Homo sapiens: one gene and its partners. The protein of the gene in region 1 purifies or fractionates together with the protein of each later gene. This does not show direct contact. Each region holds a gene or a part of one and is shown in the gene's direction. Other genes may lie near its edges.

Region 1 (3,562 bases):
ATTTTGTAAAAGTCTAGGCTGAATCACAAAAATGTTAATCATCCCTTTTATTCTAACAGATGATGCTGTAGGATGGATATATAAATATTCTTCGCCCTTTATTTTCTTTATTCTTTCACACTTCTGCAATTAGATAGCCTCACCTTCAAGTGTCCTGCGTTCAAGTAGTGTGTAAGAGTAATAAATGTTTGGCTATGTAGTGTCCATTGTTAGACTCCTTCACACAACTGAATGTCATCTCATTTTTAATGTAAAATAATTTTTTAGTTTAAAATATATGTAATATTACTAATATGTAGAGAGGTTTAATATTTTAAGAAATAAGTTAAAAATGTGAATTTGCAAAATTCTATAGCTTCAACCTTCTTACTTTTAAAAACTGAGCCTATTCCCTTTCTTCTAGATGTTTTTAGGCCACACCAAATTCCAAGCAGCCACTGATTGATTAGTTTATAGGGACCCTATAATTATGATTTGATTAAAATTAAAATATATTCAGGCCTAAAGTATTTTAATATCTTTTTCAAATTTAGCAGTCATTGTTTGTGGAGGCTAAGTTAGCCTCCATAAATTTTACTTGAGCACCATTTTTATTTCCTTGACAATTTCAAATCATCAGACCTTAGAAACTAGAAATGTGAATTCGCAGGATACCGATGGTGTTCTCCACCCCCAGCCTCTCTCCCATTTAGAATTATAAGTTATAAGGGAGTTGTATTCTCAGCATTTTGGTTATATGTTCGATATGTTCGGTAGCTGTCTTTTTAGATCCCTTTAAATGAAACAGTTGTTTTTCTTATCCAAATATATGTGGTTCTTTCCTCTTCTTTATTTTTTTTCTTTTTCACTTACTTTTTCTTGTCAATAGAGGACACAAAAGAAGAAGCCGGTTTACTTAAAAACACTATATTTTAACTTTCAAACTAATGCACGTGTGTATGTATCTATAACAATGGCCTTTTGTGTTGTTTTTCTGGGCATGTTGTATGACAATTTCTATTACAGCATATGGGACAATTGGGATAAGATAGGGTTCAGTAACACTTTCTTGTATGTCTCCATCTTTCACAGTTAAGGCAATGCACGCCTATGTCTAAGGATTTGACTTTGTATTGAAAGAGCCAATTTAAAAATGAAAAACTTAAGAGAACCAACCAGTGGTTTTATCTGTTTACTATCAAAGAGTACTCATTTATTTTTTAAAAAGTTAATTATTTTTTTCATTTTGCTAATGAAACTGGGTGGGGTGTTTTTTTTAAAATATTCCTGTGTAACCATATCTCTGAGAGTTTTCTACATGTTTATCTTAACAGTTTTAAGTTTTTAAATTTCCTTTTGTTTCACATAAAATAAAATCAACCTCTACTGCAGATTTCTGGAGTTATCCAAATATGCATAGTTCTAAGTCCTTATTTAGTATCCTGACACCATTTGTAAGTGTATTAAAACTGCCTTTTTTAAAATAAAGAAGAGTTTAAAAAAACTTTTAAAATGCAGCTGTTAAAAGGGAGAAAATAAAGTTAACTGTAGATGTAGAAATATACTCCATGTTTGAAATATTAGGGCTAAACAAAAGGGATTGTTAAAGGAAACAAAATGCAATACGGATAAACCTTACACCTTGTATTTGAAGAACATAATTTGAGAAATTAATTATGCAAATTAGATAAAGACACTATTTTAAGATTGTATTAATAATGCAAATCTATTATACTAAATACATATTGATTTAAATATCTATATCAAGAAAGCACATGCTATTGATACTCATTTCTTAAAACTCAGATTATATCAGTATTATAATTTTCAAAAGCAATTTCTAGGTGGCTATTATATATGCATATACAATACCTGCACATATTTTATATGCCTGTTTTAGATATATTATTGAAACTCACATGTTCTAATAGATAAGGCGCTGGTGATTTTTCTGTATCACTTTAAATCATTCCCTAATTCAAATCAAGCTTGAGTGGTTGCTGCTAAAGATTCAGGCATGCCTCTTTTTTTGATTTTGAGTACATTGTGTTTGCATGAATTTCTGTCTTGCAGAGCCATTAACAAGTTCTTAAATTATTCTAGTCTGACTGCCAGCAAAGCTTCCCACAACTTTTTGCTTTTGACAAGGTTATTTGCAGAAGAGGAGTGCCCCTTTTCTTGGAAGAGCTGTCATGTCCATTCATCATAGGACCGTTTTGTGTAAGCTTCCAATTTGTGCTTTCTGGTAACCGTCTAAACAGCATTTCTGATATCTGAGATCTACTTCAAAAACCTACTTAGTGCCAGCATGATGGATGGTGTACTTTACAACTTCTTTGTAATTCATCGTGCACTAGAAAGGTGACATAGTTTACCCCATCATAATGACAGGTGGGTCAGTAAAAGGGTCCTAAGGAGAGTTGTCCTGTCAGATGCAAAATACATATTAAAATGGATACATAAATAATTTAGCATGTGTAAGGTTAGCTTCAGGGAATAAACAGTGATTTGTATTTTTCTTAAAAGGTAAATATCAACTATAATATTATCATAAGGTTAAAGACATTGGTGGTGAGTGCTGAAAATGTCTAGTCAATTTTATTAATAGAACATATGGCTTTTATGCAATTTCTATGCAATTATTTCTTTTGTCCTTTGTGAAACACCAGCAGATGTAGAAAAGCAAATCACATATTAATATTTGCTATACATTGGTCAGATTGGTTCTGCCAAGTTGTTGCTGAGCAAGAGATTTTTTTCTTATTTCCATACATTTTATGGATTTTGTATCTTTTCATTCTGTAAAGCTTCATTTTTTTATCTGAAAGATAAGCCAAGTAATGCAGTTTTATGGAGAAACTTATTTTCAAAAACTCACTAACTGTGCAGAAGCTACATTATTATGAAGATATGTGTCACTACCCTATTCTGCAGAGAGCATAGTTCAACAGCCCAGACTAGCATCCTTTCTTAATAGGTGTGCAAATGTGGGGTGGTCAGGTCAATTCTGTACGACTCAGTGTTCTCATCCATATAAGGGGAATAGTAACAGTAACTTTAACGTTTTTTGTGGGGAAGAAATGATATAAACCATGTAAAGCACCTGACAGTTAGTACTCTATCAATGTTAGCTCTTATTGTCCTGTAAAAAGTCGACACATTTAAATGGGAGAAATTAAGAAACTACCAGAACATCAGAACAATATATCAAGATTTGAAAGAACAAACTTTTATTATATTTATCACATTATCTAAATATAATCTTTCTGTCTTCTCTTTAACAAGACAAATACGAATCATTAGGGAAGAAAATGCCTAGGCCAGTATGAATAAAAATAAAATATACATAATGCCCTGATCCTATGTTTAATTAAAAGTGAAAGCTCAAAAAAATTACAAATGAAATGTTTTATTCTTGAATGCAGAACGATTAATCATGTTGAGTTGGACCAGAAAAGCATTGCTTGTCTTTGTGTGTAAAATATCAATATGTAGTGCCTTAACGTATGAAATCTGAGCACTGTATCAAATATTTTCTCAGAAAGTCTCAAAGAGACAAAAATACAAACACTGCATGGAATCC
Region 2 (3,562 bases), on another chromosome or scaffold:
CCTCCTGTCACATCAGTGGGGGCATTAGATTCTCATAGGAGTGTGAACCCTACGGTGAACTGCGAAGGTGAGGGATCTAGGCTGCGGGCTCCTTGTAAGAATCTAATTCCTGATGATCTGAGGTGGAACAGTTTCATCTCGAAACCATTTCCCCCCACACACACCCCCCAGTATTGTCTTCTACAAAACCAGTCCCTGTTGCCAAAAAGGCTGGGGACTGCTGCCCTAAACAATTACAATAATGACATCAAATATCACTAATCACACATCATGGTAACTGATGTAATAATAATGAAAAAGTTTGAAATTTTGTGAGAATTACCAAAATGTGACACACAGACACAAAGTGAGCACGTTTTGAAAAAATTGTGATAATAGACTGGCTGGATGAAGGTTGCCACAGACCTTCAATTTATAAAAATGCAGTATCTGCAAAATACATTACAGCAGAGAAGAATAAAATAAGGCATATCTGTATGTGACCTTGACACAGTCATTTACTAGTTTCTGCCCCTAGTTCTCCCTTTAATCATTTCAGTATTCTCCAGAACACCTAGAGTAGTGCTCCCCAACCTTTTTGGAGCCAGGGACTGGTTTTGCGGAACGCCAATTTTTCCACTGATGGGGGTGGGGGATGGGGATGGTGTGGGGATAAAACTGTCCCACCTCAGATCATGAGGCATTAGATTCTCATAAGGAGGGATAACCTATATCTCCCACATGTGCAATTCACAATAAGGTTCACTATACCATGAGAATCCAGTGCCTCCACTAACCTGACTGGAGGCAGAGCTCTGGCGGTAATGCTGGCTTACCCACTACTCACCTCCTGCTGTGTGGCCTAGTTCCTGACAAGCCATGGACCAGCACTGGTCCCTGGCCTGGAGGTGGGGGGGGGGGGGGTTGGGGACCCCTGACTTAACAAAATTAGATCATCAATAAGACACTTTTCTTTCCAAATGGAAAACAACTCCCTTCTATTAAAAATACTAGTTGTTTGGAATAATGTGTTTTATACTAGTTTTTTTAGCACTGTGCTATTTCTATATGAGACACAAAATAAGTATTAGCTAATGAATATGATTTTAAAGATTATAAATAATAAATTCACTCAGTACTCAGTACCTTCCATATGACTCAAGTCTCCTAAACATAGATACGCAATAAATAATAAACATCTACCTGGTAGAAAGTTTTACAAAGTAAACTGTGCCTTTGTGAAAGTGAAGTATTTCGCAAGGTAAAATATGCATATATATGAAAATATATTAATCTTTTACACAAATTAGGCCCATCACTATGTGACCTATGAAACATTAATAGAATGTTAATAGAATTAGGCCTTAGCTTAAGGGAACTTAATTAATAGAATGTTAATCTCCAGAAGTCTGGAGGTAGATGCATGCAAGAGAGAGAGAGACTGTTCTAAACACAGTTTAGAATTAGGCATTTTACAAGTTTAAGTTGGCTAGTCTTTCTGCAAGCATTTAATAGTCTTTGGTGGAAGAAAATGAAAAGCTCAGCTTGGCATATTTCATTATTCAAAATGTGACCTGATGGTGTTCTTTTCTGATATCATTCCTCACAGGTCTTTCACTTCTGCTTTTCTCTTCTCCATTGAAGTTCAAGTTACCATTGGGTTTGGAGGGAGGATGATGACAGAGGAATGCCCTTTGGCCATCACGGTTTTGATTCTCCAGAATATTGTGGGTTTGATCATCAATGCAGTCATGTTAGGCTGCATTTTCATGAAAACAGCTCAGGCTCACAGAAGGGCAGAAACTTTGATTTTCAGCCGCCATGCTGTGATTGCCGTCCGAAATGGCAAGCTGTGCTTCATGTTCCGAGTGGGTGACCTGAGGAAAAGCATGATCATTAGTGCCTCTGTGCGCATCCAGGTGGTCAAGAAAACAACTACACCTGAAGGGGAGGTGGTTCCTATTCACCAACTGGACATTCCTGTTGATAACCCAATCGAGAGCAATAACATTTTTCTGGTGGCCCCTTTGATCATCTGCCACGTGATTGACAAGCGCAGTCCCCTGTATGACATCTCAGCAACTGACCTGGCCAACCAAGACTTGGAGGTCATAGTTATTCTGGAAGGAGTGGTTGAAACTACTGGCATCACCACACAAGCACGAACCTCCTACATTGCTGAGGAGATCCAATGGGGCCACCGCTTTGTGTCCATTGTGACTGAGGAAGAAGGAGTGTATTCTGTGGATTACTCCAAATTTGGCAACACTGTTAAAGTAGCTGCTCCACGGTGCAGTGCCCGAGAGCTGGATGAGAAACCTTCCATCCTTATTCAGACCCTCCAAAAGAGTGAACTGTCTCATCAAAATTCTCTGAGGAAGCGCAACTCCATGAGAAGAAACAATTCCATGAGGAGGAACAATTCTATCCGAAGGAACAATTCTTCCCTCATGGTACCAAAGGTGCAATTTATGACTCCAGAAGGAAATCAAAACACATCGGAATCATGACAGCAAGATAACCCCAAGACAGTCTTTTATCAAGTTTTGACGGTTTATGCTGGGCACTGCCAGACTGAACCAGAGCTGGAACACAATAATGTGTCCTTCTACATTTTATTACACTAAATGATATTCATATTCAAGCAACAGCACTTTCTGTAGTAATAAAAAGTAACACACCAAGTGGAGGATTCATGGCTTATGCTTGTTTCATACATGTAGAATTCGCAGTGATATACTTAAGTTATGTGCAGGGGTGGGTATGCTCGTTTCTCTCAATTTGAAACACAAGAATTACACTAATAGTAACAGGCCTTGAGCACAAAATTTGGTCAAGAAATGAGTCTGTTTGAAATGCTTAGTTGGTGAAACCCAGATCGCTGTGTTACTAATGATCACTCTGGAAATGCAAATAGAATAGGAGGGGAAAAAACAAAATCATGTTAATGCGTTTTGTACATCAGCCTTCTCCTGTCTCCATGATAACTGCATTTGGTAGGAAGCCTGAGGCAAAAACTGCTTAAGTGGATCTGTTTGTAAGTGGATTCAGTTCATTCGCTTTGTCTGTCGGTGACTCCTGAAGGTTTCCTGGTCCATCTCATTGCGGCCTGTTGGGCAGAGCTGGACAAGGTGTCTTTGAAGGAAAGCTAAGTCTTGTCTCATTTAGGACTGGGTTCCCCACAGTGACAGTCACTTCCTTCAGCATCTCACTTCTTCTTCTAGAATCCCCACAGGGAAATACTGTATTGAATATTTTATTAAAACATTTTCTTTGTACTCACTGTAGTTTTGTGATTCCTCTTTCACAAAATCATCCCAAGTTAAAACTCAAGATGTTTTTAGAGCCATGTAAAAGAGATGTCAAAGTGATAACACTCACTCTGAGATTCCTCTCTCTCAAGTCTGTTTGCTCCAAAACTAGCTTTTTTTTGCTTTGTTTTGATTTTATTTCAGGTTTTAAAATGTCCTCTTGGTTTTTCAATCTAAGCCTGACATACCATAAAAATCCTATAAGCTTTTTTTTTTAATCTTCAATCTCCCATCTTAAAACTATACTTCCTTCCCAGTAGTATCTGAATTTA
Region 3 (3,650 bases), on another chromosome or scaffold:
TCCCCACCCAAACTTTTCACACTGGGGAGAAGTTTCTGACATGAACATCTAACTTGTTTTCTCTCTTCTGTGTTTCAGGGAACAGCGGATGAAAGAGCACCCCTCATTCGAACCTAAACATTGCCTTTGCTTGGTGAAGAAACTGTGTGAGCTGTCCTGACCTGGACGATGACGTGGGGAAACCCTCCACCTCCTTGCAGGCTTGTTGCCTGTTGAAAGAAGGAAAAAGACACGGCGCTGGCAAGTGATAGGAACATTCTGGCCAGAGGTTAAAGAGCAGGCTGACATGGCTGGCCATTAAGCTTTATAAAATCATGTGGGCTCTGAAATTGTTCTTTTATGTGTCTAGCAAGTATTTAATAAACCCTTGTATAGTAATTTTGTTGTTGTTGGGTGCTGGTAGCTCCAGAATTTTGTGACCACTATTGTGGGTAAAATGTCTCTGCATCACTTGTTAATGCTACTGGTCTAACTTCATTCAGTATGCTTCATTCACCGAACTTTGTGCTCAAAATGCGTATATACCATTTTATGTTGTATTCCTCCATTTCACTTGCAAAACAGAAGTAAATAAGAGTTCGGGACCCAGGGTAAAATGGTAGCTTCATCCAATATATCATTCAAATGCATCTGATTTCTAAAACATATTACATTTTATGCTGATCTTCAGTTCATAATTCTTCCAGGAAAACTCAGTCTTCCAACTGCAATAAAATACTGGGTAGAATCAAATGGGAAAGGGGTTGGGTGGGGCAATACCCATGAGTTGATAGTGATAAGCTCCTAAGGATTTTTAACTTGTACTTTTGTGAACGAAGAGAATGCATAAATAATGTTGGTGAGGATAAAGTACAGATATTTCATGTAGAATTAATTGCTAGTTATGATGCTTGTGGATAGTTAACTGTTTTTTTTTTAGTCAAAATGATCATGCTACGAAAAGATGCTTCTGAGAGAATGTAATGAGTAACTGATTTTTCTTCCTGAGTCGCCCTTGCCAAATATGTTACTGTATTAATTAATCTAATATTGAGTGATTATTTGTAAAATTATGAATATGGGAAATCCATCTATCTACAGCCTAAGTTACACATAAGTTTCAGAAAGTCTGATTAGACTAAAGAGATATTTCTTCTGGGACAGCCGCCTTCTTGGTAATTTTGAAGTTCTTTTTACAAGTTCCTTCCTCAGTTTCAGTTCTTTCCAGTGTTTTGTAGCTCACTGTCACTCACTGAATAGAGAAACGTGTGCCCTATACTTCCTGTGACAATCATTTTGCTGACAGAATGATGGATGTTTAAAATATTGCACAAAGTACTTTAAAGAAAGGTCTGTTAGGACCAGAAGCAGAGACACCACTTTTCAAAGGACTTCTTGGTTTCAGCATAACCTAAGACAGGGAATTGGGAGCCATCATATGTCACAGTGTTCAGAATTCAAGCATATTTAAGGGCATTTTCTTTGATTCTCAAAGTTCAGCATTCATTTTGAATTGAGAAGCCTATACATTTAGCTGACAAAGTGCTTATAGAATTTCTTAACAACTGAACCATTCAAAAGGATTTTTTTTGTTTAAAACTGGATTTCAATGTAAGCAAATGAAGAAAAAAATATAGATTTCATTTCCATAGCTTCTTATCCCTGTATTGAGGTAATAAATTGTTTTACTGACAATTTTTCCTTTTTCTACACTAAAACAATATGTGATATATTTCCCCTCTTGAAGAGGCAATTCATTAAACTCTCAAATTTTCTATAGAATCAAGATAGAACCTTTAGATACTCCAACTCACCAAAATGTAAAAAAACTAACAAAAATATTTGGTCTTCAATAATGCTAAATATCTACATTTTTAGAATTTATCAACATTTAACTAGATAATTGGGCATGTCTTAATTATGCATGTACTTATCCATACTAATAAAATTGACAATGCTAGTGCATACTTATTGGTTTAGTCCTATTATCAGGATATAATCATCTGTGAGGAGGATATTTTAAATACTGTAAATGATAACAGTTAATGATATACACATTTAGACTGAGTTGCACACTGGCAGGGAGACCAAAAACATTACTTCCATACTTGTGTCATGATTCTTTTTTTTTTGAGAGAGTCTCACTCTGTCGCCAGGCTGGAGTACAGTGGCATGATCTCGGCTCACTGCAACCTCTGCCTCCCGGGTTCAAGCAATTCTCCTGCCTCAGCCACCCAAGTAGCTGGGACTACAGGTGCGTGCCACCACGCCCAGCTAAATTTTGTATTTTTAGTGGAGACGGGGTTTCACCATGTTGGCCAGGATGGTCTCAATCTCCTGACCCTGCGATCTGCCCACCTCAGCCTCCCAAAGTGCTGGGATTACAGGCGTAAGCCACCGGGCCTGGCCTGTTTTATGATTCTTAATAGTTACTTGGTTTAAATCACATTTGATACTATCCTTCTGAAAAGTCTGAGACAGATCTACAAACTACAGTCAAAATTATAGATTAAGAGGAATGAATGCACCTATTTGGCTTTAAGTTGAAGATGAATTATTTCTCATGCTCATTTTCTTGCGGCAGTTATCTTAGAAAGACCCCCAAAGGCTTTGTGATTGTAAGCACTGTCATGATCACAGAATGCAAGCTTCTGGTACCATGATCCTCAACTTAGAGAGGAAGAAACCAAGACAGAGAGCTTAACTCACTTCTCTCAGGGAAAATTAGGAGTTGAGCACAGGACAGGAAATGGGCTTTGCCACTTTTAGCTCCAGGCTTTTCTAACCAGACTTGATTTCCTCATGTTCTAGAAAGATCACTAATGGTCAAGTGGAACAAGCACTACACGACTAACCCCTATTGGGGTTTTTAACTTAAGGGAGGCTAATTTTTAATTTAAACTGCTCGAGATATGAGTTCTGCAAAAGGTGGTCCGCATCCTTGGCCCTCTGGACATTATCACTAAATTGCTTGTGCCTGTTAACAAGAATACTGACCAGAATGCTCTTCATGTAGCTTATACAGTTGGTTCACTTCATGCGGTTCTTGACATGTTTATTTCTACCCTTAATGCAATGAAATGTTTCATTAATAAAAAACCACTTTATATAAAATTGCTCTAGAAGTCATATGTCATTGGATGTCCTGTTGTTTATGGAGTTTCCCTGGAAAGATGTTCCTTGACAGATGCAGCCCTGAGTCACACACTTGGGCCATGTCTGATTTCAGCTTCGCTGTAGTGGACAGTTACAATCAGCCTGACAAGTTTCACTCCAAGCAGTCCCACATTCTGCTTTTCTGTCTTAAGTCTTTCTCAAGAGCCCTCAAAGCACCATAGGAGTATCAGGGAGTTAATAACCCAAGGCAACCCTCAACTAAATGGGGCAGGAGTCAGTCAGCTGATAGATGTTTCAATCCTCAGAGGACCAGTTCTCAGGCTTATTCCACATGGGTCCTCAATTAGGGTTGCCCACAGTGGTAACTACTTTCTATCAGTGTTTCTTTATTCCCTGTCTTAATCGCCCAGCCCTTCAATGCTGCTTCCCAAATCATCCACCTGTCCTAACATCCTTATCTTAGGTCTGCTTCCAGGTAAACCCAACCAAAATGCAGATAAGTCCACCCAAAAGGGCTCAGTAGGATCCAAGAGCTATTGGAGAGGCACTGGTTT
Region 4 (3,562 bases), about 130 Mb from region 1:
CTGGTGGCCCCTGGAAGCCTGGCTCTGGGGAGTTGCCCGTTGTGTCCTCCCTGCCCAGACCCTAGTGGCTTCTGAGGAGATAAGCCTGTGGGAGAAGCAGCTCCAGGGTTCTCAGGTACAGGAGCCATCCTCTCCCCAGAGTGGCCCAGGACAGGAGCCTGTTAGTTGAGTGCTCTGGGATGGACCCACTTGTGGCCACCACATTGCCCTGGGTCGGGTTCATCGGCCGCTGCATGGTGTGCAGACACTGGAAAGTGCTGGGCAAAATCATTCACCAGCCGGGCTGGGCTGGCCTTGGGGCAGCAGTGCCTCTTCCAGGGAGCTGAACTGAGATGGGAGGAAGGCTGAGGCCCCCTGGGACTAGGACCTCTGGGGGACTCTGGAGCAGGTCAGGTTGCTGGCCCTCTGACCGTAGGAATGGTAGCAGCTTTCTGGCTCCAGCTGAGGTGGAGCTTAGGGGTGGGGACATTCTGTGTCAAACCTCAGGGTGCTTCAGTGTATTTCCAGGCCAAGAAACTCAGCCCCTAACTGTGGAAAGGCAAGCAGGCCCCTCCAGCAGCAAGTGTTGGCAGGTGTTAGCAGGAGGACTTGGAGAGGCAGGAGAAAAGGACGCAGTGGGGCCTGTGTCCTCTCTCCATCCCCAGGCCTGAGGTCCCTGTGCTGCTTCCTCTCAGCATGAGGGCTGAAGCTGCTGGGGGTTGGGGCCCATTCCTCCCACTGAGTACCCCCTGCCCCACTGCAGGCTGGCACCGTTGTCTGGATTGGCATCCTGGTATACACAGACCCAGCAGGGCTGCGCAACTACCTCGCTGCCCAGGTGACGGAACAGAGCCCATTGGGTGAGGGAGCCCTGGCTCCCATGCCCGTGCCTAGTGGCATGCTGCCCCCCAGCCACCCGGACCCTGCCTTCTCCATCTTCCCACCTGATGCCCCTAAGCTACCTGAGAACCAGACGTCGCCAGGCGAGTCACCTGAGCGTGGAGGTCCAGCAGAGGTTGTCCATGACAGCCCAGTCCCAGAGGTAACCTGGGGGCCTGAGGATGAGGAACTTTGGAGGAAATTGTCCTTCCGCCACTGGCCGACGCTCTTCAGCTATTACAACATCACACTGGCCAAGAGGTGAGCTGGGCCGTGCCAGGTGCCACCTCACTCGATGGTGTCAACTCACCATCCCCTTTCCCCAATGCAGGAGGCCCACAGGTTTGAATTATGCAAATAATTAAAACAGTTCATAAGGTTGTGAGGTGGGAACTGGTGGTTTAGGCAGCTATAACCCAAGAGAGGAGTCCCAGGTTGCTCTGAGGAGTCACTGGTGGCTGCCAGCCCTCACCAGAATGAGACCCACCCACCTGTGCCAGGAGTGGGGAGGGAGATACCCCACACGGCCACCAGGGCTGTTTGGGTGCTGGTATCTGGGACAGCAAGTTGGCTGCTAAGCTGGGCTGGGGAGGGACCTACCTCTGTCCCCAACCCCCCATGCTGGGAGAGTCTGGCCGGTGGAGCTGAGGCCTGCCTGGGGAGGAGGGAGAGGACTGGCTGGCGAGCACAGCAGGAGGAAGCCCTGGGAGGCCCCCCGCTGAGGCTGCCCACTGTCCGAATCCAGGTACATCAGCCTGCTGCCCGTCATCCCAGTCACGCTCCGCCTGAACCCGAGGGAGGCTCTGGAGGGCCGGCACCCTCAGGACGGCCGCAGTGCCTGGCCCCCACCGGGGCCCATACCTGCTGGGCACTGGGAAGCAGGACCCAAGGGCCCAGGTGGGGTGCAGGCCCATGGAGACGTCACGCTGTACAAGTAAGGCTGCTGGGTGGGGTGGGGTGGGAAAGAGTGCGGGGAGGGGGACGGGTAGGCAAGAGTAGGGGAGAGGGAGGAGGGGAGGGGACAGGCTGTGAGGTGTGTCTCACAGCAGTCCGCCCTCCCGTGCAGGGTGGCGGCGCTGGGCCTGGCCACCGGCATCGTCTTGGTGCTGCTGCTGCTCTGCCTCTACCGCGTGCTATGCCCGCGCAACTACGGGCAGCTGGGTGGTGGGCCCGGGCGGCGGAGGCGCGGGGAGCTGCCCTGCGACGACTACGGCTATGCGCCACCCGAGACGGAGATCGTGCCGCTTGTGCTGCGCGGCCACCTCATGGTGAGCAGGGGCACAGTGGCCGGGTAGGGGAGGGCCGGAGCCTGGCCCATACCAACACCGGGCTTCTGCAGGACATCGAGTGCCTGGCCAGCGACGGCATGCTGCTGGTGAGCTGCTGCCTGGCAGGCCACGTCTGCGTGTGGGACGCGCAGACCGGGGATTGCCTAACGCGCATTCCGCGCCCAGGGTAGGTGCGGCTGCCCTTTCCTCCTTTGTGCCCCCACAACCCCCCTCACCCCACCCCCCGCCGCCACGTATCTCCCCTCCTTTCTTCCTCCGAGGTATCCCCCAACCCCTCCAGGCCCCCTCTCCCCCCACCCCCGCACCCCCTCCCACCACCCCGTACCCCCCTCTCCCCACCCCGCACCACCCTCTCCCCCCACCCCCTTTTCCCTTGCCCCTTCTCACTCCCACGCCCCCTCTCACCCCCGTCCCCCGCCCCCTCTCACCCCCCTCCCCCGTGCCCCCTCTCACTCCGCCCTCCTGGCCCCCAGCAGGCAGCGCCGGGACAGTGGCGTGGGCAGCGGGCTTGAGGCTCAGGAGAGCTGGGAACGACTTTCAGATGGTGGGAAGGCTGGTCCAGAGGAGCCTGGGGACAGCCCTCCCCTGAGACACCGCCCCCGGGGCCCTCCGCCGCCTTCCCTCTTCGGGGACCAGCCTGACCTCACCTGCTTAATTGACACCAACTTTTCAGCGCAGCCTCGGTCCTCACAGCCCACTCAGCCCGAGCCCCGGCACCGGGCGGTCTGTGGCCGCTCTCGGGACTCCCCAGGCTATGACTTCAGCTGCCTGGTGCAGCGGGTGTACCAGGAGGAGGGGCTGGCGGCCGTCTGCACACCAGCCCTGCGCCCACCCTCGCCTGGGCCGGTGCTGTCCCAGGCCCCTGAGGACGAGGGTGGCTCCCCCGAGAAAGGCTCCCCTTCCCTCGCCTGGGCCCCCAGTGCCGAGGGTTCCATCTGGAGCTTGGAGCTGCAGGGCAACCTCATCGTGGTGGGGCGGAGCAGCGGCCGGCTGGAGGTGGGCAGAGGGGCTAAAGGTGGGCAGAGCGGCTGTCCGCCCCGGGGATTGTGGGCCTTTCTGGCTGGCAGGTGCTCACAGCCTCTGGACTCGTAGGTGTGGGACGCCATTGAAGGGGTGCTGTGCTGCAGCAGCGAGGAGGTCTCCTCAGGCATTACCGCTCTGGTGTTCTTGGACAAAAGGTGAGCGTGGCCTGCCTCAGCCCCAGATGTCCCCAGCCTTTGTTGGCTAGGCCATACTCTCTTGAGTCTTGAGTTCTGGTTCTCTTCAACTGCTGTACTGTATGATTCGATTGACCTTCTTGGTGCCCAGCTCCACACCTGTGAGCAGAGGGCAGTCCACTTGGATGGGAAGGTAACAATTAAAAGCGTTAGGGGTGGCCGGGCGCGGTGGCTCACGCCTGTAATCCCAGCACTTTG

Evidence for each region. Proteins that work in one complex are often made in the same cells at the same time.
Region 2: the proteins of NAALADL2 (region 1) and KCNJ8 purify together in Homo sapiens (affinity purification with mass spectrometry; 3 studies listed by BioGRID and IntAct, with this or other methods). This does not show direct contact.
Region 3: the proteins of NAALADL2 (region 1) and SCARB2 purify together in Homo sapiens (affinity purification with mass spectrometry, with the first as the bait; one large-scale study listed by BioGRID). This does not show direct contact.
Region 4: the proteins of NAALADL2 (region 1) and SCAP purify together in Homo sapiens (affinity purification with mass spectrometry, with the first as the bait; one large-scale study listed by BioGRID). This does not show direct contact.

The regions. Positions count from the first base shown.
Region 1 is NC_000003.12:175,236,813-175,240,374, forward strand, and holds part of NAALADL2 (inactive N-acetylated-alpha-linked acidic dipeptidase-like protein 2), read left to right. Parts: intron 1-3,562. UniProt on the Homo sapiens protein: May be catalytically inactive.
Region 2 is NC_000012.12:21,764,650-21,768,211, reverse strand, and holds the end of KCNJ8 (ATP-sensitive inward rectifier potassium channel 8), read left to right. Parts: intron 1-1,588; coding exon 1,589-2,489; 3' UTR 2,490-3,257; downstream 3,258-3,562. UniProt on the Homo sapiens protein: Inward rectifier potassium channels are characterized by a greater tendency to allow potassium to flow into the cell rather than out of it.
Region 3 is NC_000004.12:76,158,180-76,161,829, reverse strand, and holds the end of SCARB2 (lysosome membrane protein 2), read left to right. Parts: intron 1-78; coding exon 79-117; 3' UTR 118-3,093; downstream 3,094-3,650.
Region 4 is NC_000003.12:47,416,885-47,420,446, reverse strand, and holds part of SCAP (sterol regulatory element-binding protein cleavage-activating protein), read left to right. Parts: intron 1-742; coding exon 743-1,119; intron 1,120-1,603; coding exon 1,604-1,792; intron 1,793-1,924; coding exon 1,925-2,126; intron 2,127-2,197; coding exon 2,198-2,313; intron 2,314-2,620; coding exon 2,621-3,143; intron 3,144-3,239; coding exon 3,240-3,325; intron 3,326-3,562. UniProt on the Homo sapiens protein: Escort protein required for cholesterol as well as lipid homeostasis.